Linked DNA regions of Homo sapiens. The protein of the gene in region 1 purifies or fractionates together with the protein of each later gene. This does not show direct contact. Each region holds a gene or a part of one and is shown on either strand. Other genes may lie near its edges. The genes, in order: DSC2 and OLFM4.

What was found.
Region 2: the proteins of DSC2 (region 1) and OLFM4 purify together in Homo sapiens (co-immunoprecipitation; one large-scale study listed by IntAct). This does not show direct contact.

The regions. Positions count from the first base shown.
Region 1 is NC_000018.10:31,081,718-31,085,548, reverse strand, and holds part of DSC2 (desmocollin-2 isoform Dsc2a preproprotein), read left to right. Parts: intron 1-2,488; coding exon 2,489-2,623; intron 2,624-3,125; coding exon 3,126-3,311; intron 3,312-3,831. UniProt on the Homo sapiens protein: A component of desmosome cell-cell junctions which are required for positive regulation of cellular adhesion.
Region 2 is NC_000013.11:53,038,679-53,042,509, forward strand, and holds part of OLFM4 (olfactomedin-4 precursor), read left to right. Parts: intron 1-3,231; coding exon 3,232-3,444; intron 3,445-3,831. UniProt on the Homo sapiens protein: May promote proliferation of pancreatic cancer cells by favoring the transition from the S to G2/M phase. In myeloid leukemic cell lines, inhibits cell growth and induces cell differentiation and apoptosis.

The DNA.
Region 1 (3,831 bases):
TTATCTAGGTTATATTTATCTATGTTACTTGTTAATGTTTAAAACTAAGGAAAGTTTAAATTATATATTAATTTAAATATTAAAAATAATAAATTAATTACATGTTAACAGTTAAAATTCTTATAAAATAACAGTAAAAATTGTTACACTTTTTCTTCTTTTTGTACTTACAAAATAAGTACATTTTCCAAAACAGTACAATTTAGTGGGAAGAATGACATTGTTATGCATTTTTCCAAATGTTTTTAGTATTTTGCTTAAGACAGGTGGATTCTCATATCTCCTTCTGCATTTAGTCTGTTACAATATGTAGTTTTAGCTGAAGCATATATAAAGGCAATCTGACATGATATAAAATTAGAAAAGAGAGTAGTATTTTGATGATAATTACAGATCACTGTGGATATTATTCCTTGATACTACATGAATACTTGATAAGGAGTAGCTTGTTTCCTAAATGTTTTTGGTAATGTGGACTCTGAATCCTCAACAATGACCTTTTGTACTTTATTACGTTAAAATCCATTGCTCTATCTTACACTTTGAGTGACCATTTTACCAGTACATCATTCTATATTGTGCATTGGTCATTTGGAAAATATTGGTTCACCAAGTAATGCAGAGCTTCCAAATATTGACACATTGCATTAAATAATATCAAAAAGATCACCTCTTTACTTCCATTGATATCACATTGGTTGATAAAGGTTTTCCAAGCTTCTCATTTTTGTTTGAAATCTCCAATTTATCATTGGCAACAAATAGTTGTTTTCCCTGAAGTGACAGATTAACTTTATGTTTTACAAAATACTTTCATAAAACTATAGTCTGCATAGCCATAGATGTCTATGTGAAAATAGCATTCTATGGAAAAAAAAAAAAAGCAAAAACTCAACAGCTTGTTCAGCTCCTAAATCAAACAATCACAGAAGTGCTTTTCTTTGAATAGATTCTTCTGAAATAATCAGTTGAAAACACTTGTCCAGTGAAGGTGTTTATCCAGTGGTGCTCTCTAGTAACTTTTTGACCTCAGGATTCCGGTTTTCTTCAGTTGCCTACAACCTTTTAGTCCCTTTAAACATCAGAATTTCTCTTCCATCTGAAGATAGCATAAGTTAATACTTAGGGTATCAAACTTCATTTCCTTGTTTCATTAGCCAGTTAATTATTTCCAATAAATTTTAGTTCACTACAAACAAAATATGTATTCCTTCTTGAAAGTACAGTAGCATGATGTTTTAAAATTTTTCAGTTGAAATAAGGCCATTATTTTTCAAGTCTACACATGTGATTGGTTATGAGGGAGGAGTAAATCTGGAAAATTATGTGTGTTAAAAGCAGGAAGATCAAGAGAAACTTTAGTTTTATTTTAGATAATGCCTAAGGAAAAGAAAGTTTCAGAGATGATGGAATTAAGGGAAGAATCTTTGTAAGAGAAGGGTGAACATTCTAGGTAGAAGATGAGGATAGATTTTAACATGCTATTTTGTCTTATGAAAAGAGATAAATTAGGTAGGAAAGGTAAGCATCACCATCTTATAGAAGAAGAAACCTAGACAAAGTGAATTTTCCAATTGCCCAAGATTGTGTCTCTTATTTTTGGAGTTGGAAATAGAACCCAAGTCTCCTAATGCTCAGTCCGGAAAGCATTATTACTGTATTGTTTTTAATTCTCCCATATCTCAATCACTTATGATAAATGAAAGTTATAAGGAGAAACACTTTAAAATATTTAAATGCTTCAGATGTTTAAAAATATTTTTTAAGGTAGTGATGAGTTTTCAACAATATCTGATAAATTGAAAGCCTTAAGAGCCAGATTCTATTTTCCACAGAAAGAAAAAAACCTACATAGCCCCAGACCTTTATCTTCATGTCAGTTTAGATGATCTCTTAAATGTAACATAAACCCTTAAAATCTATATTTTTTGCAGGAAGAAATTTCATTTTATTGTTTTGTTAAAAGACTATTTTAAGAGTCATTGCTGTCTATTTTTTTGAACATAAGAATGTACTTTGGCTAGGAGATAAAGGTTTTGATTAATTACCAGGCAATTTTAAATGCACTTGTGGCAAATAGCTCTTCTTTTTCTGTTGAATAAAGACAAAACCAATTGAATCTATATTCTGTAAGTTAATAGCACTATAAATTTGAGAAACTATTCAATTTTCATAAATTGATTAAAAATTCCTAGTGTGATTCTCCTGCCTCGCTTGAACCCGGGAGGCAGAGGTTGCAGTGAGCCAAGATCACACCACTGCACTCCAGCCTGGGCAACAGAGCGAGACTTCGTCTCAGAAAAGAAAAAGAAAGAAAAGAAAAGAAAAATTACTAGTGAGAGAAAATTCTTCTAATACACGAATGCTGTGAAATGTAATAATGCACTTCTTAAATTCTTAGTGCAAAAAAATTATGGAGTGTAAAGTAAGATTTCAATTATAATGTTGGTGCTTTCCCCCAATAATTAAATTCTTTTTTTGTTTTCAGTTAATTGACAAGTACCAGTTGAAAATAAAAGTACAAGACATGGATGGTCAGTATTTTGGTCTACAGACAACTTCAACTTGTATCATTAACATTGATGATGTAAATGACCACTTGCCAACATTTACTCGTACTTCTGTAAGTGTATGATATTAATTAAAGAAAAATGTATAGACCAGTTTTAATTGTTTAATATGCACATCTCTGGCCTGGCGCAGTGGCTCACGCCTGTAATCTCAGCACTTTGGGAGGCCGAGGCGGGCGGATCACCTGAGGTCAGGAGTTTGAGAACAGCCTGGCCAACATGGTGAAATCCCGTCTCTACAGAAAATACAAAAATTAGCCGGGCATGGTGACAGGCACCTGTAATCCCATCTACTCGGGAAGCTGAGGCAGGAGAATCGCCTGAACGTGGAAGGCAGAGGTTGCAGTGAAGGAAAAGAAAAAAATGCACATCCCCATCCACCCCTCATGATTTCAAATGAAGTGCCCCAGTGACATTAAAAGTTGTATAGTGCTAGGGTTTCAAATCATGTAAACATAGTACTTTGGAAATTAGAAGAGTAGGATTTACTTCACATCGTGTTCAATTTTTGTGAGAGTTACTAACGAAATTTTTTGTTTGCTTTTATTATTTTAGTATGTGACATCAGTGGAAGAAAATACAGTTGATGTGGAAATCTTACGAGTTACTGTTGAGGATAAGGACTTAGTGAATACTGCTAACTGGAGAGCTAATTATACCATTTTAAAGGGCAATGAAAATGGCAATTTTAAAATTGTAACAGATGCCAAAACCAATGAAGGAGTTCTTTGTGTAGTTAAGGTAAGAATAAATTAGAACATTATTTGTAGTTTATAATATCATAGAATAGCATGCTAGAATTTAATGGAAAGAAAGGAATTCTGATAAATGTAGAATAAAATAGGTATATAAGTAAATGCAAATGCTCTGTTCTTCATATACAATGGAAAGAATATATTAGTTTTTGATAATCTTTTGTTTAGGTATTTTTTTTTTTAAAAAGTCCATATAATACAATATCTATTTTGTAACCAATATCTTTAAATGGTTCAAAAACTAGCACAGCTTTGATGCCCCTGGGACAGTGCCAGACTTTTCCTAGCCCAGTTTTTCTGTGTTTGGGTCAAGGAGCCTTTATTTACTTACTGAATTTCCCAAATCAAGAGTTACTCTTGGTCAGCCCCATGGAGAGGTTATTCATAGGTTTGTTCATCATATTCAGTATATATTACATCCTTAGCATCCAGGTTCAGAATGAAAATCCTCAGTGATTCAACAATGCAAACACTTCTAAAACTTCTTTCTAATACTATTTCAGCAG
Region 2 (3,831 bases), on another chromosome or scaffold:
GCCCCAAGTGCCAGATGTGGGACTGGAGGCTCCCAGGCAGGCTGGGCTGCCTCTCCCAAGACTGCACCTCCCAGGAGGAGCTGACATGTGGTCAGCATTGTCCACGCATTCCCAAAGCTACAGATTCATATATGTGAAAAGTTCATATGAATGATTTACTTAAATTAGTAAAGTTCACACTCTGAAGTCTTTCTGGCCCATCCCCAAGCTCTTTTGTGTCTTCTCTAACTCCATGGATGATTGCCATTTTCCTGAACACCACTGAGCATCCTTTAAGTGTCAGCTGAAGAACCTTGAGTTTTTTCCTCAAATGGATCTTTACAGACCCTTCATTTTGTCTGCACCAGGGCAGGCACACCACACATTTTTATAGGTAACAAACTCCAGAATATGCCTTGCTTTTTTTTGTGAAAATCTAGGAGAACCACATTTTATTTAGCAGAGATGACAGTTGAATCACTCATTTTTGTAGAACAACAGCTGCGATGTGCCACCAAAATGTTCCAGAGAAGCTGAGGGTGTTTCATTTGTTCCAAGAGCTGGCAAGGCCAAATGCCAACAAGCATATTTATTTCTCAAACTTCCATTTCTGTAATGGATTGGCACTTTATTTATTTTTATCATAGTCAAGGTTTTATGCCTGAGTTTTGTAGACACTGGAACCTGGCAGCCCTATATCTGCAGTGCACTTCTCAGGGGGACTTGTTAGGTTTTATATATAGTGAGCCCTCCATAGCCTTGGTTCCGCATCTGCAGATATAACCAAACTCAGATTGAAAAATTTCACGGAAAAAAACTAATAAAAATAACCATGTAACAACAGGAACTATACAAATAAAAAACAATACAACAATGATTTATATAGCATTTACATTGTTTTAGGTATTATAAGTAATCTAGACTTGATTTAAAGTATTTGGGAGGATGTGTGTAGATTGTAGGCAAATACTGTACCATTTTCTGTCAGAGTCTTAAGCATCCTTGAATTTTGTTATTCTTGGGAGGTTCTGAAACCAATCCACCATGGATACTAAGAGGTGGCCGTATATATGTTTTAACCTCCCTATCCACCAAAATATCACCAGCTTTGTCATCCTCCGAGTTATGGTACATCCAATGGCAGTGAGCATCAGTTGCCCGAGGAGATACACTAGCAGTGCCAAGGACTGTTTTTTCGACTTTCATTAAAATCCTTTTTGCCTGAAGCCCTAGCCCTTCAGGTCTGTGGTCTATGAGTCTACTTTAATTTGCACAATGGGGTTAAGTGGAAGGGCTGAAATGACAGAAGTTAGGATTGCTTTTGGTATAAGAAGGATTAAAGGCCAACATCTGGCTCTAAATTCATCCAGGCACTGTGGATCAGCTACTTGATATTAGTGTAGTTTTGGGAAAAGTATCACTTCAGTTCAAATTTTTAAAAAGCATATAAAGCCAGCAACTTATTTAATGAGCAGGTCCTTAAAAAAGCCATGGCATTTTCTTTAGAGATCAGACACAGAAAGAACCACCAACTGTGTTTATTAAAATATCCACTTGGATATTCCAATTATACACTAAACTGCCAAGGGAATTTTTGGAAGTATTTTAACTTAATGATCAGACATTCAAATATATGCAACAAATCTGTAATTTAAAGGTCTGATTGCAATAATCAGTTCTTGGAATAAATGTGGGTGCACTTAATGAAATGTGTACTCTACAGGGCACACACACTCACATATTGTGTAGTAGGTTGGATCTCTATGCCACTTTGTAAAAGGCAGAGGGGATCAAAACTAATTGTATATGGCGATCAAAGAAGGAATTCGGCATAGCGCATTTCTCCCTTCTCCAGAAAATACTTAGATGTAGAGCCATGTTTCTAAATGGAAGGAGGGTGGTGTTGGCCGTGGCAACGATTTTGTCCCCAGGGAACATTTAGCAATGCCCAGAGACATTTTTGGTTATCATAACTGGAGAGTGGTTGGATGCAACTGGCATGAAGAAGCCAGGGATGCTGCTTAATATTGTGTAATTCACAGCACAACCCCCACAAGAAATGACAATCCAGTCCCAAATGCTAACAGTGCTGAGGTTGAGAAACAATTAGAGTAAGTGTGTTGAAGGGAGGAGAGATGGCAAGAGACTATGATACAAACCAGTTTAGTTTGGGGAGTTAATGTCTTCAAACATTAAAATGGAGATTAAGAAAAAAGGGCTCAATATCACTTGATCATTAGAGAAATGCAAATCAAAGCCATAGTAAGATACCATCTCATACCAGTCCAGAATGGCTATCATTAAAAAGTAAAAAAATAACAGATGCTGGTGAGATGGCAGAGGAAAGGGAACATTTATACACTGTTGGTGGGAGTGTAAATTAGTTCAGCCATTGTGGAAAGCAGTGTGGTGACTCGAAGAACTAAAAAGAACTATTATTCAACCTAGCAATCCCTTTACTGGGTATATGCCCAAAGGAATATAAATTGTTCTACCATAAAGATACATGGGCGTGTGTGTACATTGCAGTACTATTCACAATAGCAAAGACATGAAATCAACCTAAATGCTCATCAATGGTACACTGGATAAAGAAAATATGGGCCATATACACCATGGAATACTTTGCAACCATAAGAAAGAATGAGATCATGTTCTTTGTAGGAACATGGATAGAGAGCTGGAAGCCATTCTCCGAAGCAAATTAACACAAGAACAGAAAACCAAATACCACATGTTCTCACATATAAATGAGAGCTAAATGATGAGAACACATGGACACAAAGAGGAGAACAACAGAAGCGTACTTGAGGGTGGAGGGTGAAAGGAGGGAGAGGAACAACAACAAAAAAATCTATTGGGTGCTAGGTTTAGTACCTGCGAGACAAAATAACCTTTACAACAAACCCCCATGACATGAGTTTACCTATATAACAAACCTGGGTATATACCCCTGAGCCTAAAACCTTTTTAAAAAATGGAGATTAAAATATACCTGCAAATGATGATGCTGAAGCAAAATTATGTTTAGCCTAGCAAAGTATAAAATCTACCTCCCTTCAATTGGAGTAATAAGTTCTTTGTATATGGATAGATTTTAAAAATCTAGTTAAATGTATTTTTGATCTATTTATTTACAAAACACAATGATTGGCAAGAATCAAATAGTTCTCAACTCAAGGGCTCGGTAGTGGAAGAAGATGGTGTGATACTACTCAGGGAATTGGCTTGAACCTTTTGATTTTCTTTCAGGTGAGGGAATATGTCCAATTAATTAGTGTGTATGAAAAGAAACTGTTAAACCTAACTGTCCGAATTGACATCATGGAGAAGGATACCATTTCTTACACTGAACTGGACTTCGAGCTGATCAAGGTAGAAGTGAAGGAGATGGAAAAACTGGTCATACAGCTGAAGGAGAGTTTTGGTGGAAGCTCAGAAATTGTTGACCAGCTGGAGGTGGAGGTAAGGAGTGAACTCACTTCTTGGTAAATTAATAATAAACTCCCTTCAGTGACTGTAAGCAAGTACTAGTACCAGGAAGTGAAACTATCTCTTCCAACTTCTAATTCTCTACTGTCTCATGGCCACATGGCATATCACTATGTTCTGTTTTGGATAAGGGCATGTGTTTGAATAGTAAGTTAAGCACATTGGGAATGTGCTGACTTAGGAGCAGATGTTGTCTAATGGTCAGAATCCTGCCCCAGAATAAAATGCCCTTTCAACTTCTCTGAAAAGGAGCTGGCATAAAGTTGAACAACGGTTCATGGCCAAGCTATATGAGGTGTCTTCTCTGCTCTAGATTTATCCTCATGGAACTAGAAATCCACAATATACCTGATTGTGGTA